Homo sapiens: one gene and its partner. The protein of the gene in region 1 interacts with the protein of each later gene in a biochemical or structural test. Each region holds a gene or a part of one and is shown in the gene's direction. Other genes may lie near its edges.

Evidence for each region.
Region 2: of the proteins of ALKBH5 (region 1) and USP36, one has a biochemical effect on the other in vitro, tested with the Homo sapiens proteins (one study listed by BioGRID).

Annotation. Positions count from the first base shown.
Region 1 is NC_000017.11:18,179,044-18,194,370, forward strand, and holds the start of ALKBH5 (RNA demethylase ALKBH5), read left to right. Parts: upstream 1-4,784; 5' UTR 4,785-5,200; coding exon 5,201-5,970; intron 5,971-15,327.
Region 2 is NC_000017.11:78,823,465-78,838,584, reverse strand, and holds part of USP36 (ubiquitin carboxyl-terminal hydrolase 36), read left to right. Parts: intron 1-1,513; exon of another isoform or gene 1,514-1,688; intron 1,689-2,212; 5' UTR 2,213-2,221; coding exon 2,222-2,474; exon of another isoform or gene 2,475-2,586; coding exon of another isoform or gene 2,587-2,603; intron 2,604-3,083; coding exon 3,084-3,305; intron 3,306-9,577; coding exon 9,578-9,688; intron 9,689-11,237; coding exon 11,238-11,340; intron 11,341-15,120. UniProt on the Homo sapiens protein: Deubiquitinase essential for the regulation of nucleolar structure and function. Required for cell and organism viability.

The DNA of each region.
Region 1 (15,327 bases):
GAACTGGGATGGAATGGCAGCATGCAAACTTGGATCAGATAGCAGGAGGAACTTTCAAAAGTCTGGCCCACTGTGCAGTGGAGCAGAAGGCAGGACCATGAGGCCTCCTGCCATGTACCCATTGCAGACCCTGCCCCTAACTCCTGCCTATGACACAGAAGCCCCACACCAGTTGCCCAGATGAACTGGCCTCTGCCTTTGGTTTACTCAGGGTCTGATGTTGGAATCTGCTCCAACTCCACACCCTAGCCCTTACATGTCCTCCTAAGGGGCCCCTCCTTGTGCTGCCAGTCAGCCTGGATTTCTGGTCTTTGGTTATTTCTGTGCAAACAAAAGGTGTGCCTGGCAGCCATTTCTCCATGGAGTTGCTAAGTGGCCGGAAAACAAGCCTGAGGGAGGAGGCAGGAGTTGGAGTTACCTTAGGCCCCTGATTCACTGCCTATGAACAGACCATCCCCCACTCCTTGGGTATCCCCAACCCCAGACCCCCATCACTTGATGGGCCACACAAGTTTGAGAGTGGTACAAGGGAGAAGTTTGGGAAAAGCCTTCTTGGAAAATGGGACATTAGCATTGAGTTTTGAAAGATGAGTAGGAGTTTGCTAAGAATAGATGGAAGACAGCAGGATAAACATTCCAGAGAAAATCATGTTTATTCCCTGCTGTATCTTCCAGAACCTAGGAGGATGCCTAACAGAGAGTAAGCACTTAAAAAATATTTGTCATATGAATGAAAAAATAAACGAGTGAATGTTGATAGAAAGTGCTGGTGCTTTGGGGAGCTTGTGCGGGGCAGAGAACACTTGGGGAGACTAGATAGGTAGATGGGGGCATAGCTGCAAGATCCATGGCAGCAGAGAAAGGATTTATCTACTTATTCAGCCATTCAATAGCTATTAAATACCTACTGTGAATGAGGCAAATACCAGGCACTGGCAGTTAATCACAGTCAAATCACCGCAAACTAGGATAAGACCTGTGAGTGGGAGTTAGCTAGGGAAAGAGGAAAGAGAACAACATACGCAGGGGCCCTGAGGTGCGCATTACTTGTAGCAGGATCTGAGACTGAAGAGGCCGGCAAAGATGGTTTCGATAGGGCTTCTGGGCTACATTAAGAATTTAGGATTTCTGGGCCAGGCGCAGTGGCTCATGACTGTAATCCCGGCACTTTGGGAGGCTGAGGCAGGCGGATTGCCTGAGCTCAGCAGTTCGAGACTAGCCTGGGCAACACGGTGAAACCCCGTTTCTACTAAAATAAGAATAATATACAGGGGCAGCCTGCCCCTGTAATCCCAGCTACTCAGGAAGCTGAGGCAGGAGAATGGCTTGAACCTGGGAGGCAGAGGTTGCAGTGAGCCAAGATCATGCCACTGCACTCCAGCCTGGGTGACAGAGTGAGACTCCATCTCCAAAAAAAAAAAAAAAAAAAAAAAAGAATTTAGGATTTCTGGGCCGGGCATGGTGACTAACACTTGTAATCTCAGCACTTTGGGAGGCTGAGGCCAGTGGATCACTTGAGCTCAGGAGTTTGAGAGCAGTCTGACCAACATGGTGAAACCTCTCCTCTACTAAAAATACAAAAATTAGCCGGACATGGTGGCATGCACCTGTAATCCCAGCTACTCAGGAGGCTGAGGCACAAGAGTCACTTGCACCCAGGAGGCGGGGGTTGCAGTGTGTCGAGATCGCGACACTGTACTCCAGCCTGGGCGACAGAGCGAGACTCGGTCTCAAAAAAAAAAAAAATTTAGAATTTCATCCCAAGAGCCATGAGCAGCCTTCAAAGGTTTTCCAGAGGGGGAAGGGGAGGCACAACCTGCACAGACTGTACTTTGTTAAAGCCATTCTGACCACTGAACGGTGAGTGAATGTAGGAGTTGGGGAGACCAGAGGGGGCTGCTGCAGTGTTAGCTGGAAAACTTGTCATAGATTCTAGTGGTGGTGATGGGTGGGGAGAAGTTGGTAACTGGGGAGAGATTAGAAGGCCCAGCTGGCAGGACTAGGGGGTCAATCAGACCATCCTGGGATGGAGAGGATCAAGAAAGAGCCCCTGATACAAATGCCACAGGGCTGTCCTGCTTTTCACCACTGCCTTGGGTTGGCTTTCCCCAGAAGCAGACCCCAAGGTGAGGAAAGTAAGGAACTCACCAGAAAGAGTGTGGTGTCAATCAAGTTACCACTGTGCAGGGGCCATGCCTGGCAGCAGCTCACTTAACCCCTGGGGTTCTGCCTGCGGCGCTGATGCTCAGTATAGGGACCCCCAAAACAGAGCACAGTGGGCTCCAACATGAGGCAGCCCTGAGGCCTGCCCTCTGCCCCTCATTTCTCATTGTTGTGAGATCATACATGGTGTGTGTGAGGGGGAGGGGGTGTCAGGCTAATTCTTTTGCCCCAAAACCTTTTCCCTAGTCAAGCTGAACTATGAGGCTCAGGAAGGGATGATGTGGCAGAGTGAAAACGAGGGGGCCCTTTTGGCTTTCAGAATACAACTGGGGCCTCCCACACAGACTACAAGCGGCTTCTTGGAAGTAGATCATCCAGGTTGAGCCAAAATGTGAATCACCTCTTCTCTAGGTTGACACAGCCTCTCCCATAACGGACACTGCATTGGAAGCTTCCCTGTGTTCCTCCCTGACTGCTCTTGAGCTAGGACTCTCCCCTCTCGGAGCCCCGGTGAGGGACAGCACAGATTCTGGAACCAGGCAGCCTGGGTTTGAATCATCACTAGGCCACATACTCGCTGTATGGCCTTGGGCAAGTCATTTCACCTCTCTGGGCCTGTTTCCCTATATATACAATGGTAATAATAATAATGCCCTCCTCATTGAATTGTTTGGACGATTAATTGGGCTAGTATATGCACAGGTCCTGGCACATAGTAAAAACTTGATAAGCTTTTTAAAAAAATGTCCATTCCAGGCTGGGCGCAGTGGCTTACGCCTGTAATCCCAGCACTTTGGGAGGCCGAGGCAGGAGGATCTTGTGCCCAGTAGTTCCAAGACCAATTTGACAACATGGTGAAACCCCATCTCTGCTAAAAACAGAAAAATTAGCGGGGTGTGGTGGTACACGCCTCTACATAGTTCCAGCTACTCAGGAGGCTGAGGTGTGGGAGGATGTCTTGAACCCGGGAGGTCGAGATTGCAGTCAGCCAAGATCGTGCCACTGCACTTCAGCCTGGGCAACAGAGACTCTGTCAAAAAAGAACGAGGAGGAGGAGGGGAAGGGGGAGAGAGAGAGGGAGACGGGTGATAAGGAACTGGCATGGGCAACAGCCATGGCAAACAGCCTGGGCAAAGGCCAGGAGGTGAGACACAGTATGTTTGTAGACCTGGCTTACAGGATGAGGACCAGGCTGGGGCTCAGTGTACATGGAAAGAGAGGAGAGGAGGAGCCAAGGCCAGAAGAGTCTTGAAGAAAAGCTTTGAGTGCCAAATAAAGCAGGGGAACTTTATCCTGGGAGACATGGGAGATTTTCCAGCAGATCCCCCCCGACCCCCATTTGTTGGAGCCCTCCAGTGCATCCTGCACGGCTACGCCTTTTTGTTTTGTTTTGCAGCTCTGTCGCCCAGGCCGGAGTGCAGTGGCGCCAGCTCGGCTCTCTGCAGCCTCAATCCCCTGGGCTCAAGGGATCCTCCCACCTCAGCCTCCTGAGTAGCTAGGACCATAGGCGCGCGCCACCACGCCCAGTTCATTTTTAAAAATTTTATTGTAGAGATGGGGTTGCCATGTTGGCCAGGCTGGTCTCAAACTCCTGGGCTCAAGTGATCCGCCCGCCTTGGCCTCGCAAAGTGCTGGGATTACAGGCGTGAGGCCCCGCGCCCGGCAACGCCTTTGCTGACTGCTTCAAAACTTTTTTGAATTGACTGTAGTCATTATCTATAGCTTAGCCTTAGCCTTGCGCCCGTTCGTTTCCTGGAGTTTTCTTCCAGAGTCCCCGTAGGAGGTGCCCCCACGCCCATCTCCAGCACCAAGGAGGCTCGACGCCAACCCCAGCGCGCCCCCACGCTCGCCGTCACCGGGACGTGACTCGTGAAACGTCCGCTCCGGGCGGCGGCGGCAGCGGCGGCAGGCTGGCTTGTACCCCGACAACGCGCGTCTGGCTTCTGCCGGACGTTCCTATCTGGGTTCAGAACTGGGGCCGGGTGCTGCAGGTCCCGCAGTCTGAGAAGTTTTCGCGGGTTTCAGAAGTTTCCTTAGGCGTTCTAAGGGCTTTACTCAGGTGGAGTCTCCATTCAGGCACTTATTTAACCACCCATTTCTCCTTTAGGGGTCCTCGCTGCTCGCCCAGCCGCTAATTAAGTGACGGACACAGTAGCTAAGGAGACTGCCTGATTGACACGCATGATTACCAACCGACTTCCGGAAACTCCAGTCAGGGCCTGCCCGGCGCGTGGCCCACGGCCCAATTAAAGAAGTGGAAGCGCCAAAGGGGGAGGTAACGGAGCGGCCTACGTTGTGGCGGTTCCCTGGTGAATGCGCCCTGGGGTTGAGGCGTCTGCGGGCGTTCGGACGATGCCGTGACGCGGCACGGCGACACTGTTGGCAATATGAGCGCACCCCTGTAGAGGGAGCCCTTCGGTCCTGGAGGCGGCGCGGCGTGAAGACAGGTTGCTATTTGAGAGCGTTCCCTTGAAGCCCCTCAGAGAGTGGGGGAGGGGCGGCGGACGGCAAGCGGTTCCTGTCTGCGCTTGCGCCGGCGCCTCTGCCGACCCGGCCTGCACGCACGCGCATGCCCGTAGCGCGCGGAGCCGCGGTGGCCGGCAGCACTGCGCGTGCGCGGTGAGGAGCCCGCTAAGGAGCGGCGCTGGCGGACGTCGGGCTGGCTGCCCGTGACGTCGTGCGGAGAGCTTTAAAGTGCGGGCCGGGCCGGGCGTCCGAGGGTCTGGTCGGGAGTCGGGCCGCGTCTCCGCAGCAGCCCTCCGCGGCATGAGGCGCTGCCGGCGCCCCTGCCCCGCGGGACGTGGAGAAGGTGGAGGAGGAAGAAGCCCCGTTGTCGCCACCGTTGCATGACCCGCCGCTCCTGAGGCCCTACCCCACGCCCGGACCCTCGACGCCCCCCGCCGGGTCCCCCACTCACGCATGGGGGTTCGGCGCTAAGGACCCCCCTCCCTCCGGGGGCCCCGGGGCGCGTCCCCTTAGAGCCATGCCCGGCTGCCCCGCCCGCCCCGGAGGACCCTAGAGCAGCGTCGTGGGGGCCATGGCGGCCGCCAGCGGCTACACGGACCTGCGTGAGAAGCTCAAGTCCATGACGTCCCGGGACAACTATAAGGCGGGCAGCCGGGAGGCCGCCGCCGCTGCCGCAGCCGCCGTAGCCGCCGCAGCCGCAGCCGCCGCTGCCGCCGAACCTTACCCTGTGTCCGGGGCCAAGCGCAAGTATCAGGAGGACTCGGACCCCGAGCGCAGCGACTATGAGGAGCAGCAGCTGCAGAAGGAGGAGGAGGCGCGCAAGGTGAAGAGCGGCATCCGCCAGATGCGCCTCTTCAGCCAGGACGAGTGCGCCAAGATCGAGGCCCGCATTGACGAGGTGGTGTCCCGCGCTGAGAAGGGCCTGTACAACGAGCACACGGTGGACCGGGCCCCACTGCGCAACAAGTACTTCTTCGGCGAAGGCTACACTTACGGCGCCCAGCTGCAGAAGCGCGGGCCCGGCCAGGAGCGCCTCTACCCGCCGGGCGACGTGGACGAGATCCCCGAGTGGGTGCACCAGCTGGTGATCCAAAAGCTGGTGGAGCACCGCGTCATCCCCGAGGGCTTCGTCAACAGCGCCGTCATCAACGACTACCAGCCCGGCGGCTGCATCGTGTCTCACGTGGACCCCATCCACATCTTCGAGCGCCCCATCGTGTCCGTGTCCTTCTTTAGCGACTCTGCGCTGTGCTTCGGCTGCAAGTTCCAGTTCAAGCCTATTCGGGTGTCGGAACCAGTGCTTTCCCTGCCGGTGCGCAGGGGAAGCGTGACTGTGCTCAGGTAACCCACCCGGGTGGAGGGGGCGGCCCTGCGCCTGCTGCCTTAGCTACCCACCCTGGCCCAGAAAGCAGCAGCCCGTAGGAGTCTGCGTTTTTTACAGTTCTGACCAGTTCTTCTGTTTGTAGATTGTAGGGAGCGAGAGAAGGGTTTTGTGTTTAAGATACCTATAGCAAGAAAATAGGGAACCGATGTGGAAATCCTGTCCCCGAAGGCAGGTTTGACGGGATCACTGACTTGGCTGAGAATTCATCGAAAGCCATCTTTTCAGAAGGCTGTTCCCTTTGATTTTTTTTTTTCCCACCATCCATTTCTTAGCATAAGTCCCTTTGTGATTTTCCGGTTTTCCATTCTGGCCTTCCATTTACAAATCTATGCTTTAAAATTTTTTTTTTTTTTAATTTATCTAAAAGTCTTTCTTGTTCTGCCATTTTTGGATTCCTTAACAGAGAAAGTAGTCACAGGCAAAGGCCCCAGAGATTATTTAATTGAAGCACATTCTCCATTCCCAGGAGGGGGAGTGACTTCCCTGGAGTTGAACAGATTAGTGGTTGGGCCAGGCATACAGAGCAGCACACTCTTAAAATTCTTCCCTCCTGGCTGCAGAAGAGCCCATCAGTTCTTTGTAAGAACGTGTTACTTGTAGTCAGGACTGAATACAACAGAATACAGCTGGTCTCTTGACTGTTTGGCCTTACAGTTGCGTGAGCAGCAGAACTTAGGCTTTTGGCCTATATTCGGTTCCCAGATCCTGCTGAGAATTAGCTCAGTGCCCTGGCCCCCAGAGGAGATTGCCATTGGGAACACCTTTGCTGTTTATGTGAAGTGAAAATTTATTTGGAAGCGGCCTCCTTCCAGTCCTGAAAAAGGTAAACCTAGTAATGTAATTCAGTAATACCCAAAACATCTTAGGTTTAGACCGCAGCTGTTCTCAGAGCAGCTTGGTTGACCACCACCAAATACAAGGTTGAGGACACACTGGGCTTTTGTCGTGAGCAGCCCAGGTTCTGAAGTGAGTCAGTAGGGCCAAAGTCATGAGGAGAAGCAGGGTCCCTGGAGCCTTCTTGATATGAGATTAGGTCATCTGTTTCATTTGAGTCTAACAGCTGAGGCTGCTTCCATGTTGGGGATGGCAGCAGAGCCTTGTAATGTCCAAGACGTCCTGGTGGGAAGGTGGGAAGTCAGTAGTAGCAGAAGCGATACTTTAGCTCTTTAGGCATCTGAAACTTAGAGGACAGCCTAGCTGTCAGATGCCTTCTTATAATGGGCTTCTGAGCTTCTCAGATCTTCATGGCGCTCCTAGATGGATGTCTTGGCAAAATGCTTTAAGATGGGATTTCCAGGACACACCCTCTCCGGGTGCTTGCTGTGTAAGGCAGGTTGGGGTCTGACCCCATTGACGGGTTCTCAGTGCAAAAATTACCTCACACAAGGACCATTTGGTCTCTTAGCGGGATATTAATTTTCTGCGTAGTCATTGGCCCTCAGGGTGGTTGTCAGGAGGTCTAGTAGTGGTCTGGTGCTTAATGAGGGGATCACAAGGCATTTTTTTTTGGTTTTGGGACTACTACTCTCCTTAACACATGCCCACCCTGTATTTTAAGAACAGAAGTTTCGAGTTCTTAGTATGCAGGTCTGTTAGTGATCAGCAACAGGATTGCATCATCAGGAAAATTCTCTTCATCTTTTCCTCAGAATAGTAAAGTCCTAAAGCTTTCCCAGTCCCTGTCAACCCTTTCTGGATTCAGACTTGGCTGTGGTGTTAGTGTGGGAGGCTCAGCCATGTCCTGAAAAGTGCTGCCCCAGGCTTTGAATCCAGCTTTTCTCTCATTTGCTTTGGGATCTTGTAGGCGTTCTCTGAGCTGGCTTTCCCATCTGTAAGTGGGGATGATGCCAACTTCCAAAGCCTATTAGAATTAAATGTGGTGATTTGTTGTCTAAGATAGGGCCTGGCACAGGGTAGGTACTTAAATGGGTGCTTGCTTTCATATACAACCACTCAGTGATCCCCTGCTCTCTCACTGGGGAAGGAACTAGGGATTTGGTGGAGCCTGAAACATGACAGTTTCCCTTCGTGTAGTTCAAGCCCCATGGAGGCCTCAGACAGGAGGATAAGTTATAGCCCAGGAAGGTAACTGCAGAAGCACACTGAAGGGGGACATCTTTTCCACTTTGGAGTGTTGGAAGTTTAGGGGAGGAAATGAACTGGAATGTGAAAAGTGACTAGGAATGAGCCAAGCAGAGAAAGGTGGAGAAATACACAACAGCAGTGTCTTTGGCTGCAGTAGCAGGAGTAGCCATAGGTAAGAGGGGGTGGATGTTGATGGGAGGCAGATGGAGTTCATTAGTAGAGACTGTGGTTGAGGGTGCTCTGGTGAACTCTAGATCAGGGCTTCTCAACAGTGCTATTGTTATTCAGGGCTTGATAATGCTTCATTGTTGAGGCTGTTCGTGCATTGTAGACTGTTCAGCAGCATTCCTGGCTTCTATCTGCTAGGTGCCAATAGTGTTTTTTATGACAACCAGAAAGTGTCCAGACACTGCCAAATGCCGAGGCAGGGGAAGTGCAGAATCCTTAGTTGAGAGTCACTGCTCTAGGGTCTGGACCCTTCCACTAATTAAATCTTCTTGCACCTGCATACTTAGCTTACCTTGGTATGCAGGTGGGTGAACACCTGCCTATTAGTAGTGCCCGTCGTCAAATCCTGCATATAAACTGGTAAGAAGTGGTGCTTTCTCTTTTCCTGGTACAGATCCTAGCCCAGAGGTGATGAGCAGTAAAGCTGCAGATTGGAAGGGAGGGGCTGGTGAAAACAGTGGTGCGGTGCAGATGGGGAGGGATTCTAGTAGTAGGCATCTTAGACTTCAGTTGGTGTTGGTGGCAATGGTATCTGTACCCCTCTAAGACCGCATGGCAAGAATACAATTTTATATTTAATAGTGATCAGCATGGATGTTGGTGCGTCACAAACATTGACTCAGCAGTGTCTAAACCTGGGCATTTAGAACAAGGCCTCACAGAATCTTCTGGAAGTGCTTCAAACTCCTTTCCAAACCTAGTCGTCAGTTGTTTTTTGTAACCTTCCCATGTTAGGCCTGGGTGGATCCCCTCTTAAGGCTGTACTTTAGGGAAATATTTTTTATCTTCATATCACTTTATCTGTCATTCATTCTCCTATTCCCTGTTGGCTGCATGGGGCAGATTAAAACAGACTCTGATTGGACTAATTAGAATAATTACTTCAAGGCTAATTGCTTACTTGCTGCTATCTTTAATCACTGCTACGTGGTCTGTGGTGTGGTGGCCACATGCCCAGAGACCCAGGCCTAGGCCAGCCGTCTGGAAATGACTGTATCACCCAGGCACGGGGCATGCACTGGTGAGCTCAGCCTGTGACTCTTCCAGTTAACGGTTGGTATTGGGTGGAGTGGGCACCCCTGTCAGTTCTGGGATAGTCTGATCTTGTTCAGCTGGTTGAAAGCAAAATTTAGCTTTCTGGCTTAAAATAGTTGGGAAAGTAGGGCAGATAGGTCCTGGGCCACATCTCTTGTGTGGACTCTTCTGATTCCACTGGAGGGGGAGGAACCACAGGATGAAGTCAGGGCTGTGCACCGTCAGGAGGAGCTCTGGGCCAGGGGGGTTGGCTGCCCTTGCTGCTGCCAGAGCCTGACAAGGCAGAGGGCAGTAAAAGAAAGGAAGCTAACAGTGAACCATGGTGTTAATCATGAAGCTCAGAGCAAGCAGAGAATAAATAGGCCATAAAAATTTCAGAGCTGGCCAGGCTTAGTGGCTCATGCCTGTAATGCCAGAACTTTGGGTGGCCAAGGTGGACGGATCATGAGGTCAGGAGTTTGAGACCAACCTGGCCAACATGGTAAAACCCCATCTCTACTAAAAATACAAAAACTAGCCGGGCATGGTAGTGTGCACCTCTAATCCCAGCTACTCAGGAGGCTGAGGCAGGAGAATCACTTGAACCCGGGAGGCGGAGGTTGCAATGAGCCGAGATCGAGCCCTTGCGCTCCAGCCTGTGCTGTAGAGTGAGACTCCGTCTCAAAAAAAATAATAAAAAAAAAAATTTCAAGGCCGGGCGCGGTGGCTCACGCCTGTAATCCCAGCACTTTGGGAGGCCGAGGTGGGTGGATCACGAGGTCAGGACATCGAGACCATCCTGGCTAGCATGGTGAAACCCTGTCTCTACTAAAAATACAAAAAACAAAATTAGCTGGGTGTGGTGGCGGGCGCCTGTAGTCCCAGCTACTTGGGATGCTGAGGCGGCAGAATGGCACGAACCCGGGAGGCGGAGCTTGCAGTGAACCGAGATCATGCCACTGAACTCCAGCCTGGCAGCCTGGGCGACAGAGCAAGACTCCGTCTCAAAAAAAAGAAAAAGAAAATTCAGAGCTGGCTGGCCAGTTGGTGGATAGCCTTCACTGATACAGTGCTAGCTCTCTGGGGGATATAGGTTCATCTCTGCAAATCTCTTTCATGGGGCTAGTGGGTGTACGTGTGCCCTTTGGTGAGGCCAGCAAGGCCCCCTGGACAGGCTTGCTACCAGGAAACACAGATGGGCTTTTCTTCCTACCGCCTCCACAACAAAATCCAGAAAGTTTGACAGCAGACTTGGTTGGAGTTACAGCACCACCATTTTAACTCGTTGACTTCGGGGAAATTAAGCTTTTTGAGGCCTCAGTTTTCCTCATCTGCAAAACCAGTCTAATGATGCTATAGAGTTGTTATAGAAAGTTGAATCTTTGTCATCTATTGAATGCTTGAAATTTAGCTAAAAGTGTCTCAGGAGATGGGCTACCTTCTGTGTTTAGTACTGTCTATCTTGGTGTGTACAGAATTGGGACTTGGCAGGTTGACCTTCCCTCTGGATTCAGAAAGCCCCAGGACTTCTTATAAAGTTAGGCCATGGGTCGTCTTGGAGGCTTGGGTCTGGTAAATAATTGAGCCTGAGCTCACAATCCTGCCCCTGGGTCCAGGTGGCTGGTCTGCTGCCCCCAAAAGCCTGACCTTCTTGGTCCTGTGGGTCTGTCAGTAAGGCAGGTAGCCATAGCTGGAGAGAGACAGTCACCAGGCTGGGATCTTGGACAGTCCCTCCATCTCTGGTTCATCCTGGCCTAGGCAGGGCATGGAGTAGATGGAAAATGGTGGCCATCTTGGAAATGTGTCATAACAACTCAGTTTCCAAGACCGTCCCCTAGAGGAGAGATGTACAGTCCTGCATAGTTTCTTTAAAGAATTTTTCAGGGCCAGGTGCGGTGGCTCATGCCTGTAATCCCAGCACTTTGGGAGGCCAGGGCGGGTGGATCACCTGAGGTCAGGAATTCAAGACAAGAATGGCCAAGATGGTGAAAGCCCGTCTCTACTAAAAATACAAAAATTAGCCGGGCGTGGTGGCAGGCACCTGTAATCCCAGCTACTCGGGAGGCTGAGGCAGAGAATTGCTTGAACCCAGGAGCTAGAGGTTGCAGTGAGCCAAGATTGCGCCACTGCATTCCAGCCTAGGCAACAGAGTGGGACTCTGTTTCCGAAAAAAAAAAAAAAAAAAAAAATTTCAGACACCTCATTTAATTTGCACCTAATCTTCTGAGGAGGGGCTTGCTGTGATCTTTGTTTTGCAGAGGCAGAAACAGGTTCTAAGTGGTAGAATAGTTCAGCTCAACACACATTTCATTTAGTGTCCACTGTGCAGGGATGAGTAAGGCCTTTGAAGAGCTTTGTCTTGAAGGGAAGACACAATTTCCACAAGGCCAGATGGAATAGCAAAGAGGCATGAGAGGGTGTGGTTGAGCAATGTAGGGGGAACCCAGCCTGGGCAGTCAGGGAAAGGCCCCCAAAAGAGGAGATAGACATGTCAGCTCCTTCGAGAGTCACTCTGAGGTATAGGACTAGTGGGTGACATTTGCAACATATACTGGTCAGTGCCTCTGGGGCTGGGGCTGGGGGCTCAGCCCAGAGAGGGAGCAGGCAAGCCAGATGGCATAAGGTTATTTCCTCTTCTCCTTTCCCTGTGAAAACAAAAAAGCAGGAGGTCCTGGAACTTTTCATGCCAGCAGTAGGGCTGGACCCAAGGGCATATTAAGTTGCAAGCTGGCCGACTGAGACTTTCAGACAATTTATTTTGTAGCAAGTAGGTTCCTTAATAGTAAATAATACCCTGTGGTCTCTGCTCGACATTTTGTGAGATTGGCCAGGAGAGCTTCCCTTAATCAGGACTTTGAGCTCATGTTGCCAGAGCAGCCGGATATTCTGAGGAAAGGGTCAGTGGGCTGTGTCATAGCTGCTAGGAAGTTCTAGAAGACCAGTACTAATAAGCCTTCCAGGTTGGGTCAGTGCCAAAGTCATTTTTGTGGGCCTGTGCAGCCCTACCTCCATACTAGTTCTTCCAAGGCCTGGGCTCCGTGGCAGGAACCTGACATGGCTTATTGTTTGTTCTAGAGCCCTTTGGGGGATGGGGTCAGGGAGCATGCGGGCAGTCAAGCTTTGACAAACATCTGGATTTGCTCCAGAACTGCATTAAGAAAAGTGGTTCCTTGTTGGAGATGGGAAGTCAGGGCCCTTGGTTATGCATATAGCCAAGTCAAACAGATTGATAACACTTGTCAATGGCAGGGAAGGTTGCCTGTAGCCAGCACTGCAGATTCAGGACTTAGAAACGTGCCTCTGGGGCCGAGCATGGTGGCTCACACTTGTAATCCCAGCACTTTGGGAGGCCGAGGTGGGTGGATCACGTGTGATCAGGAGATCGAGACCAGCCTGGCCAACATGGGGAAACAGTCTTCACTAAACATACAAAAATTAGCCTGTAGTCCCAGTTACTTGGGGGTCTGAGGCAGGAGAATTGCTTGAACCTGGGACGTGGAGGTTACAGTGAGCCAAGATCATGCCACTGCACTCCAGCCTGGGCAACAGAGTGAGACTCTGTCTTTAAAAAAAAAAAAAAGTGCCTTTGAGACCTTTGACAGCTCTTTGGGAAAGTATTGTGTGTCTATATGGGACAGTCTTGCAGTCTAGACCCCCATTCCCCCAGTGTGGAATGATAAAAGCATGGGATGAGAACTAGAGTTCCTAGCTCTGGAAATGGGGCCCAGGCGGCCCCCACTACTGGCAGATCCCTGCAGGGGGAGCCCAGACCATGTCTCTTTGGCAGATGCTGAATCCAGGGCTCTGGCTTGCCCCAGGATAGTCCAGGGCCCTCTGACTTTTGTCAGAGTGCTTAGTAAAGATTGTAGGGTGTCAGGCACCCTGCATTATCTGACTTAATTCTCGCAATACCCCTGCAGGTAGGCCTCTCACCACCCCTTTCCAGGAGTGTCAACCAAGTAGTCATATAATGCTGTTTTTCTGCCTGGAAGGGAGGAGGCCCCGTTTTTAAAATCTTGTAATCTTAAAAACTTTAATCTTGTAATCTTTAAAACTGTCCCCATTTTTAAAATCTTGTAATATTAGTAGCAGCAAAAGAATAGCTAAATTATAAAGCATAACAAAATGAATACCCAAGAACCTACTGTTCTCCTTATTACAGATGAAGAAACTGTACAGGTTTTTAGGTTCAGCATGTGATTTAACAAAGGTCACAAAGCTAGTAGGAGACAAAGCTCACATTTGAACCCAGGTCTCTTCAACTCACTAACTCCTGTGTGGTACTTCTCACTGTGGGCTGATGGGTATTAATAGGTATTATGAGAGAAGGTTCTTTGGTAAGTGCTCAAAGTCAGTGGGTTCTTTTGCTGTAGTAATTCTCATGTGCTTTAAATATATTAATGCTTTTTGAAACTCTAATCAGTATTTTACAAATTGATTTCACTGTAGACATTCGTCCACTGTCTTTTTCTTTTTTTTTTTTTTTTTTTTTTTGAGACGGAGTCTCACTCTGTCACCCAGGCTGGAGTGCAGTGGCACTATCTCGGCTCACGGCAACCTCCACCTCCCAGGTTCAGCGATTCTCCTGCCTCAGCCTCTGCGATAGCTGGAATTACAGGCACCTGCCATCATGCCTGGCTTATTTTTGTATTTTTGTAGAGACGGGGTTTCACCATGTCGGCCAGACTGGTTACGAACTCCTAACCTCAGGCAACATGCCCACCTTGGCCTCCCAAAGTGCTGGGTGGGATTACAGGCGTGAGCCACCGTGCCTAGCCTGTCTACTGTCTCTTATGGGACTGGTGTTCATGGAGAAAATTTTGAAAAATTCTTGTCTAGGAGCAGCTTGAGGGAGAAGGTGGATCTATAAAATAAAGGTTTGGGCCGGGCGCGGTGGCTCACACCTGTAATCCCAGCACTTTGGGAGGCCGAGGCTGGCGGATCACGAGGTCAGGAGTTCAAGACCATCCTGACCAACATAGTGAAACCCCATCTCTACTGAAAATAACAAAAATTAGACAGGCGTGGTGGGGTGCGCCTGTAGTCCCAGCTACTTGGGAGGCTGAGGCAGGAGAATCGCTTGAACCCGGTAGGCAGAGGTTGCAGTGAGCCGAGATTGTGCCACTGCACTCCAACCTGGGTGACAGAGTGAGACTGTCTCAAAAAAAAAAAAAATTAAATAAAATAAAGGTTTGTTCTATCCCCAGCATGAGCTCAAATCAGATTTCCAAATCAGAGGTGCTTCCTTAAGGCTGAGCCTGAAGCAGTCTGGCTTTTTATCTCTTGTTGGCTCTTGCATCCAGTTATTAGAGCTGAGGTTTGGCCAGCCTGGCCATCTTGAGGGGTCCTTCCCAGGCCTGCAGTGTTTTTAATAGTTAAGTTTGTGTCTGTACAACTAGCCTTTGAGAAGGGAGCTGATCAGCAGCCATGAGAGAAGGGTTTGTGGTACAGGGCCAGGTAGGGAAACTAAGCCATACTTGTCCTACTAGGCTTGTGGCTGAGTTTCTGGGTGTGTAGAACTGCTGCAGCTCAGTAGAGTAACTTGGAGTGGGAGTATCTTGTGGCTGCCATGCTTCCAGTGATAGCATGTGAGGGGTATAGGAAGCTCAGAGCTTGCTTCCAGAGTTTCAAATTGGAATGACGCTAGCTGAGAAGAGGACAGTCATCTACCCACATTAGTTGGTCTCTGAGCGGTTTTAAAAGTCATGTAACTTGTTGAAAATAAACAGATATCTGAGTATGATGGAAATCCTTTTTTTTTGGGCGGGGGGCAGGGGGTGGGGGTCAGTGGTGGGGACAGAGTCTCGCTCTGTTGCCCAGGTGCAGTGGGCGTGATCTTGGCTCACTGCAACTTCTGCCTCCTAGGTTCAAGCGATTCTCCTGCCTCAGCCTCCCAAGTAGCTGGGATTACAGGCGCCCACCACCATGCCTGGCTAATTTTTGTATTTTTAGTAGAGATGGGGTTTCGCCATGTTGGCCAGGCTGGT
Region 2 (15,120 bases), about 61 Mb from region 1:
GAGTCTGCGAGGCTTCTGTGTATTTTTTGATTCCGTTGAATTGTCTGCATGTGACGCAGCAGTGATTGTTCAGTTGGTGAGAAGTCTTTGATAATTCTCATGAGAAAAGGCTCTTTTATTTTCTCAAATCAGACAACTTATAATGCTTTTTTTTAAATAAGCTTCTGAAATTTCTTTACAGAAGTTTTTTGTTTTTTGTTTTTTTTTTTTTTTGAGACCAAGTCTTGCTCTGTTGCCCAGGCTGGAGTGCAGTGGCGCGATCTCGGCTCACTCCAACCTCTGCCTCCCGTGTTCAAGCAATTCTCTGCCTCAGCCTCCTGCGTAGCTGGGATTACAGGCGCCTGCCACCATGCCTGGCTAGTTTTTTTGTATTTTTAGTAGAGAAACATCTTCGCCAGGCTGGTCTTGAATTCCTGACCTCCTGATCCACCCGTCTCGGCCTCCCAAGTGCTGGGATTACAGGCGTGAGCCACGATTTTTTTTGTTTTAAAGATGGGGTCTCACGATGTTGCCCAGGCTGGACTGCACTGGCTATTCACAGGCGTAATCATAGCTCACTGCAGCCTCAGGCTCCTGCCCTCAAGTTATCCTCCCACCTCAGCCTCCCAAGCATCTGGGACGACAGGCCCAGGCCACTGCACCTGGCTTTTCTTTACAGAAGTTTTTGTAGAAAAAGATACTTGATCCATGTATAGAATTAGATGATCCACAGTGATAAATTTGAATGGCTTAATATGAGGTGCTGGAGGAAGTCCTTACTTTCACTAGAGCAGAATTTTGGGGCACACTTGACTTGTTGATTCTCTGAGGGCAGGCTGGGTACTGAATACCAGAGGAAGTCATCATTTTTCTGATGTGAGTGAGCAATTTAAGGGACATATTTTTGAAATTGTGACTCAGATAGTCTGTGCTGTGTTTGGGAAGGTTAAGTTGAGAGGTGGTGGGTAGGGGAGGGCAAGTGGTGGATACAAAGGTAGCGATTGGAGAGGTGCAGGGGTCTCTTCTTGGTTACAGTTTCCATGCAGCTGCACCAACAGTATCGATCCTCTGTTAGGGACTGTAGTATGTAGCAAGCTCTAAAGCACTTCCCAAGCCTATTATTTTTGTTGCTATTTTACAGTAGAATAGGGGGTTTGGAGAAGTCATAGTAGTTGTCCCTGGGTTTCATAGCTAAGGATGATAGAACCTCCCGGGGCCACCACATTCCAAAGCCTGTGATCTCCCCACTCTCCTGCTTGGCTTTTCTTCTTCTCTTTTGATAAGAGTCCTGGGAAGACATTTGTTTAAGTTTAGGTGTCTAATGGATACTAGTCTCTAGGCCTGCTACTTGCTTTTCTTCTCCTTCCTCACTTTTAAAAAGATAATTTGTACTCCAAGCACTGTGTAATGGAGATTAATACAAGCCACAAATATAATTTAAAATTTTATAGTAGCCACATTAAAAAGAAGCAGGTGAAATTCATTTTCATAATTTATTTAACTCAATATATATAAAATATTACCATTTCAACAGGTAACTGATCTAAAAATTACTGGGATGTTTTACATTCTCTTCTTATACTAGTGAGTATTTCTCTTCAAAATCTGGTGTGCATTTTACACTTATAGCACCTCTCAACCTGGACTAGCCTCATTTCACATGCTCAGTAGCCACGTGTGGCCTGTGGCCTTCATATTGAAGAGTGCAGGTCTGTACAGACATGCATGCTCATCTGACCTGCATGCTAATTCATTTATTGCGTGGGTGTGTGTGTGTGTGTCCGTTTGTGTGTGTGTGTGTGTGTGTCCGTGTGTGTATAACCAGTTTGTATGTGAGAATTAGTGTGCCCCTGTTTTGGAGCAGACATTTGGACCACGTGATGACCTTTGGAAGGAAATGGCACCAAGAATGATGTCCAGAGCCACTTGATGAGTATCTGATGAAGAGATGCACATGGCAGGGGCTGTCTGGCTGCCTCAGGGCCACTGTTGTCTGCTCACCTCTATTTGTAGTGGCATCTTATCTTTTTGTGGGGGAAATGTGAACTAATATGTCCAAGTGATTAGTGCTGGGTCTCCCTGTTTCCTTTGTGCAGCTGATCCAGGGGATCACTGATCCAGGGGAGCTTTTGTGGTGGCTAGCATCCATAATGACCAAAGAGGAGATCTTAAGAGATGTTTTTGTCCCGGGATTTCGTTATCTATGGCTCTATGTTTCTTCTTGTCCCCACAGTGATGCACCATGCCAATAGTGGATAAGTTGAAGGAGGCCCTGAAACCCGGCCGCAAGGACTCGGCTGATGATGGAGAACTGGGGAAGCTTCTTGCCTCCTCTGCCAAGAAGGTCCTTTTACAGAAAATCGAGTTCGAGCCAGCCAGCAAGAGCTTCTCCTACCAGCTGGAGGCCTTAAAGAGCAAATATGTGTTGCTCAACCCCAAAACAGAGGGAGCTAGTCGCCACAAGAGTGGAGATGACCCACCGGCCAGGAGACAGGGTACAGATGTGCAGTGTGCTGGCAGAGAGGCCCTCACTCCGGGGTGACGAAGTGGATGGACTTAAATATTGACTAATTAGTAGGAAAAACAAGAGAATGTGGTCAAAGAGTTATGAATTTTTACATGGGGTCAGTGGATTTCAGTTATAGAAGTAATGATACAGGGTTGGTAGCAAGGAAATCTGTGTGCTTGGTGGATCTGTGTACTTGGTGGGTCCTTGGACTTGCTGTCCCCCTATCCCAAGTATAATACAGTCGAAAGTCAGGCTTGGAACTAAGAAAGAGAAATGGGGTGGGCTGCATGTGGGCACAGTGTGGTGCAGAGTGCCAGGCCTGGCTCCTTCCGCCACTCAGTCTCTGAGCTGTGTCCTCCATCTATAGAGGGGCCCTTGAATTCTTTAGCCAAGCAGCCTAGGAGGTCCGTGGGATGGCTGGGTTTACTCCTGAGCTTTCCAGGAATGTCCTGTAAACCAGAACACCAGTTCTTCTCTGGTGCCATGTTCCGAGTCACTGCATGCTAAGTGTATGCTTCAGGAGTTTCTTTTTGTGGACGACCTGTGTGTGGACTTACGTCTTCCTCTTTTCTTCCCTTGTCCCTTTCTTCCTCAGGCAGTGAGCACACGTATGAGAGCTGTGGTGACGGAGTCCCAGCCCCGCAGAAAGTGCTTTTCCCCACGGAGCGACTGTCTCTGAGGTGGGAGCGGGTCTTCCGCGTGGGCGCAGGACTCCACAACCTTGGCAACACCTGCTTTCTCAATGCCACCATCCAGTGCTTGACCTACACACCACCTCTAGCCAACTACCTGCTCTCCAAGGAGCATGCTCGCAGCTGTGAGTGTGGGTTTGCAGCAGTGGGGTGGCTGTGGGTCCTCTGGATTAGATAAGCCCATGCACTTGTGGCACTGCTGCTCTCAGTCTGGGTCAAATTTAGGAGGGTAGTTCATAATGTATAGTAACTGATGAAACCTAAATTTGAATCATGCCTGCTGCAGAATGGGCCATGAAGGTGAATCGGTCAGGTGGGGCTGTGTTCGCCAAGCTTTTCTGTAAATAATTACCCAGACAGAAACGTTTTCAAAAGATACTTCCAAAATATATATATATATATATATACAAATATTATTTTTTTAGAGACAGTATCTTGCTCTGACACCCAGGCTGGAATGCAGTGGCTCCATCACAACTCGTTGTAGTCTTGAACTCCTGGGCTCACATGATCCTCCCATCTCAGCCTCCCAAAGTGCTGGGATTATAAGTGTGAGCCACCATGCCTAGCCCAATTGTTTTATGCATCTGTTGTTGTATCAGCATATCTTATGTGTATTATAAAACGTGCAGCCTGGACAACACAGCAAGATCCCATCTCTACAAAAACAAATCAAGGCCGGGCACGGTGGCTCACACCTGTGGGAGGCAGAGGTGGGCAGATCACTTGAGGTCAGGAGTTGGAGACCAGCCTGGCCAACATGGCGAAACCCGGTTTCTACTAAAAATATAAAAATTAGGCGTGATGGGGTGCACCTGTAATCCCAGCTGCTCGGGAGGCTGAAGCAGGAGAATTGCTTGAACCCAGAAGGTGGAGGTTGCAGTGAGCTGACCAAGATCATGCCGCTGCACTCCAGCCTGGGTGACAGAGCAAGACTCCATCTCACACACACAAAAAACAAATCGAAACAATTAGCTGGATGTGGTGGTGTGCTCTATTTGATTAAAATAGAGGTGAAATAAGATATAACTTACCAAAACTGAAAGAAATAGAAAGTGAAGAGTCTTTTAACTATTAAAGAAATTAAAGCATTGGTTAAAAATCTTCCCATAAAAAACCCCAAGCAGAGACAATGTTATTTCTGTGTAACTTTTTTTTTTTTTTGAGACGGACTCTGTTGCCTAGGCTGGAGTACGGTGGTGTGATCTCAGTTCACTGCAACCTCCGCCTCCTGGGTGCAAGCAATTCTCCTGTCTCAGCCTCCCAAATAGCTGGGACTATAGACGCACGCCACCACGCCTGGCTAATTTTTGTATTTTTAGTAGAGATGGGGTTTTACCATGTTGGTCAGGCTGGTCTTGAACTCGTGACCTCAGGTGATCCAACCGCCTTGGCCTCCTAAAGTGCTGGGATTACAGGTGTGAACCACTGTGCCCAGCCAATTTCTATGTAACTTTTAAGAAACAATTCCAATCCTTTACACGTTCTTCCAAAGAATAGAGGAGGAGAGAATCTTTCCCAGCTCATTCTATAAAGTTCCTATAACTCGGATAACAATAATAAGGAAAATGCGAGAAAGAAAATGGATAACCACAACTTCTTCACGAACATAGATATAAAAATTGTAGGAAAATACTACCAAATGACACAGTTTCTAAAAAACTGTAAGCAACTTATGTTTATCCTAGGAATGCAGGATGTTTTCATCGCAGAAAATCTCTAAGTAGAATTCTGGAGGGAGCAGAGCAGTTGAAAACACAGCTCAGGAGCCTGGCCTGTAGGGTTTGCTTCCCAGTTTGCCCCTTAGTAACTGTGAGTTTTTGAGAATGTCCCTGGTCTATGGAAGAATGAGACTGTCTTCCTTACAGAGTTGCGTGAGGCTCCGATAAATTCTGAGTGAGTCAAGTGCCTGGAGTAGCAGCCCGCAAAGAGGGAGTGCTATAGAAGTGACTGCTACTGGCTGGGCACGGTGGCTCACACCTGTAATCCCAGCTACTTGGGAGGCTGAGGCAGGAGAATCACTTGAACCTGGGAGGCAGAGGTTGCATTGAGCTGAGATCACACCACTGCACTTTAGCCTGGGCAACAGAACAAGATTCCGTCTCAAAAAAACATAAAAAAAAGAACACAAGATGGCCATGCAGTGGGAAGTGTTTGTAAACATCTTGCTAATTGCGATGGCTTCATAGCAGCAAAGGTTAATTATCAAGGCATAGTTGTTGAGATGAAGCAGCACATTGTTTGGGGGCGTTTTTTGGAGATGGAGTCTCGTTCTGTCGCCCAGGCTGGAGTGCAGTGGTGCAATCTCGGCTCACTGCAACCCCCGCCTCCTGTGTTCAAGAGAGTCTCCTGCCTCAGCCTCCCAAGTAGCTGGGACTGCAGGTGCCCGCCACCACGCCTGGCTAATTTTGTATTTTTAGTAGAGACGAAGTTTCACCATGTTGACCAGGCTGGTCTTGAACTCTCGACCTCAGGTGATCTGCCTGCCTCTGCCTCCGAAAGTGCTGAGATTACAGGCATGAGCCACCGTGCCCTGCAGAAGCACATTGTTGAGATGGCTAATTGTAGCCCCTATTTCCAGTGGTGACCTTGGTAATTTTGAGGTGGTTCTGGGTGGACTTTCAGTAAGATTTGACTAGATGGCTGTTGTTTTCGTCTCATGGTTTTGGCAGTAAGACTCTGCTATCCCAGGCCTGTCAGGGCTCTTCCACTGTAGAGCTGCCTTCCATTCTTGGTTTCTCTGCAGGATCTTTTTGAGCCAGTTGCCAACTTTGTGAGGATTAATTTAGTTAAAACTAGATAATATCTGTAAATCCCCGTAACCTGGCACAGGTAAGCTGCAGTTTGTTGCAGCATGTCAGCAGCAAGCGTGTGAGTAAGGCAGCCATGGCCATCCCTTCAAGGGGAACGCCTGGTCTTCCTTCCAATACCGGTCCCATGGGCCAGTATCACTGTGAAATATTAGTGCATCTTACTATCTTGGAACATATGAAGAGACGTTGTGGCCTTTTTTTCCTGCACCCCACTGGATCCTGAGTGACCCCTAAGTGGGCTTTGGCTGTGGTCTCCCCCTCCTAGCACATGGCATTTGAAGAGTTGAGGATCCTAAGGGGTGTTTGTTCTGACGAGGGTCCACTGTGCACGTGGCACGGAGCAGCAGCTCCTGCCGTAGGCTGGACTGTCTCTGGCGCTAATATTTAGCTAGAAGAGAAACACTGTGTAAATAGTCTAGGAGGAACGCAGTTCAGTCCTGTCCTTTTGTTTCCCAAATCTCTCTATGTCCGTGTAGTCATGGATTGACTTTTGAGTTATATTTTCCTAAATTACATGAATAAATATTTGTCCATGTGCCACTTAAATTAATCTCATATATTGCTGGAGAACCTGGCTTAGATTGTTATTTACCCTGTTAAGAGTGATATTTTATTAGGCTGAAAGAAGCTTTTTTTTTTTTTTTTTTTTGAGACAAGCTCTCACTCTGTCACGCAGGCTGGAGTCCAGTGGTGTAATCATAGCTGACTGCAACCTCCACCTCCCAAGCAATCCTCCCACCTTAGCCTCCCAAGTAGCTGGCACTATAGACTCATAGCACCATGCCCAGCTAATTTTTTTTTTGTATTCTTTGGGTAGAGATTTGGTTAGGCAGTGTTGCCCAGGCTGGTCTCAAACACCTGGGCTCAGCGATCCTCCTGCGTCAGCCTCCCAAAATGTTCGGATTATAGGTGTGAGCCACCATGCCCAACCAGCAGCGTTTTATATATAATGATTAGAGGCTTAATTTCTACACAGTTTTTTGAGACAGAGTCTCTGTTGCTTATGCTGGAGTGCAGTTGCCACAGTCTCGGCTCACTGCAACCCCCACCTCCCAGGTTCAAGCGATTCTCTTCCCTCATCCTCCCAAGTAGCTGGGATTACAGGTGACTGCCACCACACACGGCTAATGTTTGTATTTTTAGTAGAGATGGGGGTCTCACCAAGTGGCCAGGCTGGTCTTGAACTCTTGACCTCACGTGTTCCACCCGCCTCACCCTCCCAAAGTGCTGAAATTACAGGTGTGGGCCCCCATGGCCATTTTCTTTTGTAGTAAAACTGTATCTTACCTGAAGTTAGGTTTTGGAAAAAAAAGAGCTCTTCAATATTTATGTTGTCCCTTTTTTTTTTTTTTTTTTTTTTTTTTTTGAGATGGAGTTTCACTCTGTCGCCCAGGCCGGAGTGCAGTGGTGTGATCTTGGCTCACTGCAACCTCCGCCTCCCAGGTTCAAGCGATTCTCCTGGCTCAGCCTCCCGAGTAGCTGGGACTACAGGCACGTGCCACCATGCCTGGCTAATTGTTTGTATTTGTAGTAGAGACGGGGTTTCACTGTGTAAGCCAGGATGGTCTCAACCTCCTGACCTCGCGATCCACCTGCCTCGGCCTCCCAAAGTGCTGGGATTACAGGCGTGAGCCACTGCATCTGGCCTGTATTTTCTTTTAAATGACATAATTTTTGCCTAATTTTGAGTTCACCAATCATTATTGTCATTTTAAAAATAAAAGTAATAACATGGATATAGTTAGAAAAGGCAAGCAGAAGTCTAAAATGAAAAAAACCTCCCCTTTATGTAAAGGCAATCTCATGGAGAGTTTTTTACATCTCTTCAAGAAGAATTTTGTGTAAATAATAGCATTTTAATGTCTATTTGCTAAGCAGGCTGCATGCTGTTGCATTATTGATTTTGAAGTCTAAGGAGTTGGAGATATTGCGGGGAAATGATTTGGGTTGAGTTTTGTGTTATGAGATGGATCTATTTGATAATAGATAATAGGTAATGCACTGTGTAGTAGACAACAGTATCTAGCAGATTTGAAGGCGTGCTTGCCCTTTGGTCCAGAAATTTGTCTTCTGAGCGTGTACTTTAGAGAAACTGACCCATGTGCTCAAGGAGACAGGTGCAGGATTGTTCATTGCAAAATGTCTATGATAGCAGAGAAAATGGAAAGGCTAAATGTGTGTTAGTGGTGGATACATAAATAACAGTGGTCTCTTCATTCAGTGAAATATTCTAGCTGGAAGATTTGAAGGAACTGGAGCTATGTCTAGCAACATGGATTTTTGTAAAGCCATTGCTGAATGATACGTAACTGCATGATACGATTTATAGAAAGGAAGTTTGGAAACATGTAGCTACAGTGCCATTTATTGTTCATGGATACACATGTGTGTGATAATACATGAATGAGAACGATAATTGCCTAATTCAGGATAGTGGTGACTTTGAATGAAGGTACATGGAAAATGGGGTTGAGAGAGATTGAGGGGAGTTCGGCGATCACAGCAGTGTTTATTTACATCATAATTTGAAAGGTAAAAATGTACCACTGTCGGGGCTGGGCTCGATGGCTCACGCCTGTAATCCCAGCACTTTGGGAGGCTGAGGCAGGTGGATCACAAGGTCAGGAGTTCGAGACCAGCCTGGCCAGCATGGTGAAACTCTGTCTCTACTAAAATACAAAAAATTAGCCTGGCATGGTGGCACGAGCCTGTAGTCCCAGCCACTTGGGAGGCTGAGGCAGGAGAATTGCTTAAACCCGGCAGGCGGAGGTTGCAGTGAGCCAAGATTGTGCCACTGCACTCCAGCCTGGGTGACAGTGAGACTCTGTCTCAAAAAAAAAGGACCACTGTCTAGCCTAATGCCTAGTGAGGCGTTTTATGTAGCGCAGGGGTGGGCAGACTCATCTGGCCTGCTCTCTGTGTGTGTAAATAAAGTTTTATTGAACACGTTCATACCCCATTGTTCATATATTGTCTATGGCTGCCTCCTCTACAATACAGGAGCATAGTTGTGACTAGACTGTATAGCCCTCAGATAGGAAAGGATTTGCTATCTGGATCTTCCCAGAAAACATTTTCAACCCCAGATGTATCCTAGCGAGGTGTTTACTAGAACCAGTGGAACAGACGGTCCCATATCTGAGGCACTACTAAGGGGCTGTCAGCCCTAAAATATTTTAGCCTATTTACCATGTGATGCAGCTTAGAAATTCGAGAATACATCGTTTAAGCTTCATTTTGAAAATCTGCCTTAGTCTTTTTATAAGTAAATAATACTAGTGAAATCTGAAAAGGATCATGCACAGGTCAGCATTAATGTGGGGTGATGGTGTGAGGTTGTGATGGTGAGAGTTTCAGCTTTGGATGGATCATAGCTTCCAAACGCCATCCAGCAGAGAATAACATTTCCTTGGTGGTCACCCAGTCAGCAGAGGTCTGGGATCTCTGGCTCAGCCGTTCTCTCACAGCCTGGTTTGCTCTTACCTGCTTGTGTTTCTGGCTGTGTTAACGTTTGGGGTGGGGGCCTCACCGTGAGTTCTTTGAAAGCTCTTGTCTTAAAATTGCTCCTCCTTCCACGCCGGCAGGCCACCAGGGAAGCTTCTGCATGCTGTGTGTCATGCAGAACCACATTGTCCAGGCCTTCGCCAACAGCGGCAACGCCATCAAGCCCGTCTCCTTCATCCGAGACCTGAAAAGTAAGCATCAATCCATGTTAAAATTTTTGTGATTTATTTATTTTTTAATTTTTTGTAGAGATGGGGTTCTCGCTATGTTGCCCAGGCTGGTCTTAAATTCCTGGCCTTAAGCAGTCCTTCCGTTTTGGCCTGCCAAAGTGTTGGGATTACAGACACGAGCCACTGTGCCATTCTCCATCTGTTACTGAAGGCCTGCTAAGTGCTCGCCCTGTAGGAGGTGCTGGGGAGTTGGTAGAAGGGAGAGAAGAGTGAGTCATGGATGAAGTCTTGGGAATCCCTCTGTGCTAACAGCCCTGCATGTGGTGGTGCAGACTCAAGGAATAGCAGTTTAGAGACATGTGGGCTGGGGTCAGTGGGGAAGCCTCTTAGTGGGGGCAGGTCAGGACAGGTAGCTTTTCCTTTGGGCAGGTGGAGGAGTTATTGTGTATTTGGGGCAGGCAGGTGGGCCTGAGGGAGAGCTGGGAGGAGGGATGGATGAGGAATGTACCAATTCCATTCTGAATATCAGGAATCAGTTGCCTATGCTATAAAAAAGTCTCATTCACATTCACTTGGCAGAAAGAAGAGGCCTATTACCGGTTTTTGAAATCTGTGTAAATTGTAGCACTGTGAAATACTTACTCACCTGTGTTTTATATTGGCTTTTGGAGAGATATTCAATGGATTTTACATTCTTTTTGTTTGAGACAGGGTTTTGCTCTTATACCTAGGCTGGAGGACAGTGGTGCAATCACAGCTCGCTGCAGCCTCAAACTCTTGGACTCAAGCAGTCGGCCTTGGCCTTCTGAGTAGCTGGGATTACAGGCGCACCACACTTGACTGTTTTTGTATTGTTTGTAGAGATGGGGTCTGGCCATGTTGCCCAGGCTGGTCTCCAACTCCCAGCTCCAAGCGATCCTCCTGCCTTGGCCTTCCAAAGTGTTGGGATTACAGGCATAAGCCATTGCATCCTGCCGGATTTTACATTCTTTATTCTTTTTCTTTCTGAGATAGAGTCTTGCTCTATTGCCCAGGCTGGAGATTGCAGTGGTGAGATCATAGCTCACTGCAGCCTCAACCTCCTAGGCTCAACCCATCCTCCTGCCTCAGCCACCTAAGTAGCTGGGACTACAGGCACATGCCATCATGCCTGGCTAATTTTTTTATTTTTTATTTTGGTAGAGATGAAGTCTCCCTATGTTACCCAGGCTGCCCTCGAACTCCTGGGCTCAAGTGATCCTCCCACCCAGGCCTCCTGAAGTGTTAGAGTGACAGGTGTGAGCCACCTCACCCAGCCGGCATTTTACATTTTTGAGGGCTTGGTGTTCTTCCTTGTCTGTGCAGTAGTGAATGCTCAAGCCTGCAATCTTATTGAGAAAGTGGTGGCCATGATGAATTGTGATTGGGATATAGAAAATCCATGTAGAGCTCTTGTTTTCCTCACTTGTTCCTTTGAAAAGTTGCAGTATTTTCCCCTTATAACAGCCAGGAATGGCCATTCAGGAAAGCAGCCGCAGGCCGTTTGATGAGAAGACACGAGCTCTTCCCTCCCTGTTTCTTCCTCTTTTAGAGATCGCCCGACACTTCCGCTTTGGGAACCAGGAGGACGCGCATGAGTTCCTGCGGTACACCATCGACGCCATGCAGAAAGCCTGCCTGAATGGCTGTGCCAAGTGCGTGCTTCCCCACCCACCCTCCCAGGGCTTTGGACACCTTTTCTACATGGTGGCAGCAGAACATTCCTATGGCAACAGCCAGCCCGGCACCTTTCTACCCAGGCTGCCCTTGGGTAGACGTGGCAGAATTTGCCTCTGGGTACTCAAACTGTTGGAGCCCAAATAGGGGATTGCCCTTGCTTCCTGGGAAAGGGCTGTCTCCGGAGACGTCCTGCTGGTCCGGGGCGGCTTGGTAGGATCGGGTGGCTGTGGTGGCGGCAGCTGTGTCTGAGCAGCTCAGTCAGGGGGAAATATGTTAGCAGACCTTCTTAGGGGCATTCAGTTCTTACCATGGACTTTTTCAGTCTCTTAAAAATCATGTCGTTTTTGAAAAGAGGTTGGGGTGGTAGGAATGAGGTCTCTGCAGTATAATTTATATGTACATGTATATGTACAAACAGGGAGCTTTAACATGAGGAGGTTTATAACTTTAGGATCTGACTGTGCCTGGCTGCTGTTTCTTATTCACACGCCACGTAAGCCCTTATATGTGATGGTTGCCATCACAAATTGTCTTTGTGTCATTCCTGAGTTCATAGGTTCAGACCAAAGAAAACAGGCAGGAAATGCTTAGGACTTCCTTGTATTGCCTCAGCTTAGGATCGTAGAAATACTTTAAATAGTTTAGGGAATATACCTAGAATGTTCTTTAGAGAAGTTGAGTTGTGGCAATAAGTGATTGAAATGGCAAAACTACTGGCCTCAGTGGATGATATTCTTACGTAAATAAGACTTACAGAAAGAAAACTGCTTTTGAGACAGGAGTCTTGCTCTGTCGCCCAGGCTGGAGTGCAGTAGCTGGGATTACCACCGTGCCTGGCTAATTTTTGTATTATTAGTAGAGACAGAGTTTTGCCATGTTGGCCAGGCTGGTCTCCAACTCCTGGCCTCAAGTGATCTGCCTGCCTTGGCCTCTTAGTGCTGGGATTACAGGCATGAGCCACCATTCCTGGCTTAAGAAAACTTACTTAAATCACTTATATGAAGGCAACTTTCACTGCACTCCTAGGATGCATTCCTTTTTGTCTGTTTTGAGGGTTTGGTCACGCGTTCTTCCCCTTCTCCTGAAGGGGCTCAAGCTTCCTTGCTCCCTGTATGATCCCAGGTCTGCCCTTCAGTGAACTGGGTAATTGAACTGCTGTTCCCTGTGTGCTGGGCCCCATAGCTAGCACTGGGAACTGAGAGGTAGAAGCCATGGTCCTGGAGTCTGTGGAGCTCATGGTGTAATTGGTGAAGACAGTGGACCCCAGCAGCGTTTGCAATGTGGTGTGGCCAATGCTGTGATAGAGGGATATTACCTCACCCAGAGGCGGCTTCCTGGGAGAAGTGACCCCCGAGGGCCTGCAAAGGCAAGTAGGTGTCCCCAGGAGGAGGGTTGCGGTGTCCCCAGCACCTGCAGGGGGAGTGCAGCGAGCCTATAGCAGGGGGCCTGGCTCTGGGCACAGGGTGCAGCCACCTGGAGCGCTCTTAGGACAGAAACTGACCCCTGGGCTTCAGTCAGTCCAATTAACCAGAGTCTACGGTGGAAGAAATTCGTGAGGAGTAGGATGGGAGGTAGAATGAATAACGGTTTGGATTTGGGGCTGTGAGATGGGAGGAATGCAGGTCTGCGGTCTGGGCATTGGGGTGGGTGGTGGTGAGCCATTCGTTGGTACCAGGATTGCTGGAAAGAGGAGGGAGGCCAGGTGTCAGGTGGCCAGGCATTGCCAGGGGAGAGATGAAGGCTCACCAGATGTCGGTCCATGAGGGAGCTTTCACTGGTCTGTAGTGAAATGTGGAGTGAGAAAAAATAAGAATGACACCAATGGTGAGCTTCTCATAAAGCAAATTATTCCATTTAATTTGCAGGTGGAGGGGCCTTTTTGTCTTTTGCTTCTGTAGATGACTTTTGATGTTACTTGCATTATGATCAGAGCGTGTTGATAATATTTCTACTTCATGGAACTTCCTGATGTTTTCTCCGTGATTATAGGTGACCAGCGTTTGTGAATGTTTCCTGCATGCTTGGCGGTGGCTGCTGAGACTGCCAGGGTGTTGGTTTGCTCCTCTGTCCATGGATGGGTCTACTGATGATGCAGTTTTCATTTTCTATATCCATGTGCTCTTGTCCCCTTCATCTGTTTGGAATAGTGTGTTAAGTCCATGATTACTGGAATTCTGGTGGGTGCCTGTCTCCTTGCATCTCCTCTAGTTTTGCTCTATACAGGTGGTTGTGGTTAGATATTCGTAACTGTCATGTCTTCATTGAGGATCGTTGCTTTTAGCATTCTGAGTGTCTTCACTTGTCACGTGGAGTGGCTTTTGTTCTGAATTCTGCCATGGCCAGTGTCAGTGCTGCAGCCCCTGCTTTTGCAGGGTTTCCGCCGGCCCCTTGCTGTCACTTTCTGAACCCTTTCTTAGAGGCGTTCTTAAGATCTGTCTTGTTTTGTAAGCCAAAATGACCATCTTTTAATAGGCAGGTTAAGCCCCTTCACATTTCCTGTTATGACTGAAAAGTTTGGTCTCAATTCTGTCATATTTATGTATTTTATAGTAATTATAGGTAGCATATTTACTGTGCTTATTTCTGATTTTTCTTTATTTCTCAAATTTCTTTGGATATTAGGAAGATGTGTGTTTTTGTTTTAATGGCTACCTTTGTACATAAACCATTCTTTTTGAGACAGGGCCTTGCTCTGTCTCCCAGGCTAGAGTGCAGTGGTGCAATCTCCGCTCACGGCAGGCTCCACCTCCTGGACTCAAGCAATCCTCCTGCCCAGTAACTGGAACTGCAGGCACGCTCCATGCTGCCTGCTGGTTTCATACGCCCTTTTGAAATGCACCTGGTCCTGTTTTCCTCGCTCCTCACTGTCTGATTTGGCAGTCCACCGTGGTACCCTTTACTTCCTAGCTCTTTTCCTCTCCTCTCTCTCTTGCCATTTTAGCGTGCATGATTTCATTTTTTTTGTTGGCACCTGTAAGGTGGTATCTTTTTCTTGCCCAGCCTTGGGTTATGGTTACATCTTCCCATTGCTCATTGCCCACCCTCCAGTTGGCACCTCTGGTGCGCTCCTGGCTGGGTGAAGCCCGGCCTCTCATAAGTTCCTCCAGGAGGGCAGCTGTGTGTGGCACTCTAGTTCCAGAAATGAGGCCACTCTCACTGTGTTGAGGACGTTCGGCTTGGAGTTTTGGTGGCTGTGTCCTTGGCATCATGTCTGTTTTCTGGAGCTAGTTTGCATCCCATGAGGTGTTTTGATTCTTGTTCATTGCTGCTTTGTGCTTGAAGCACTTTGCATAGACTGGGCCTGCTTTCATTTATCTTGTGGGTCGGCTGGTTTTCAAGATTCGTATCCAGAGCGCCTCCTCTGTCTGCCCCGTGCAGTGCACTTTCATGGTTGGCTTTTCCTCTGGCAGCAGAAGGGTCGATAGTCTAGGATAGTTTTGAGTTTTTTTCAGGACCCTGATGTTTCCCCTTTTGCCTCTCTTGCCCTTCACTGCCCTTCTAAGGCTGCCTGCCTGCCTCTTTGCCTTCTCCCCCTGAGAGCCCATGCCTGTGGAGACTGCTACTCCAGCTGCGTGCCTGTGAGACCCCATATTCAGCACTTCACTTCAGGGTGCCCTTTGCAGCTGTGATTCCGGGTGGCTCTCGGGCCACCTCCTGCCCCCTCCTCCATTCTTGCCCAGCTGTTCTCTACTGCCCTTTGTCCCCAGGCTCAGTGGGATGCCTGTGGGAGCTCGCTGTCACTCAGCTTGCCTTTC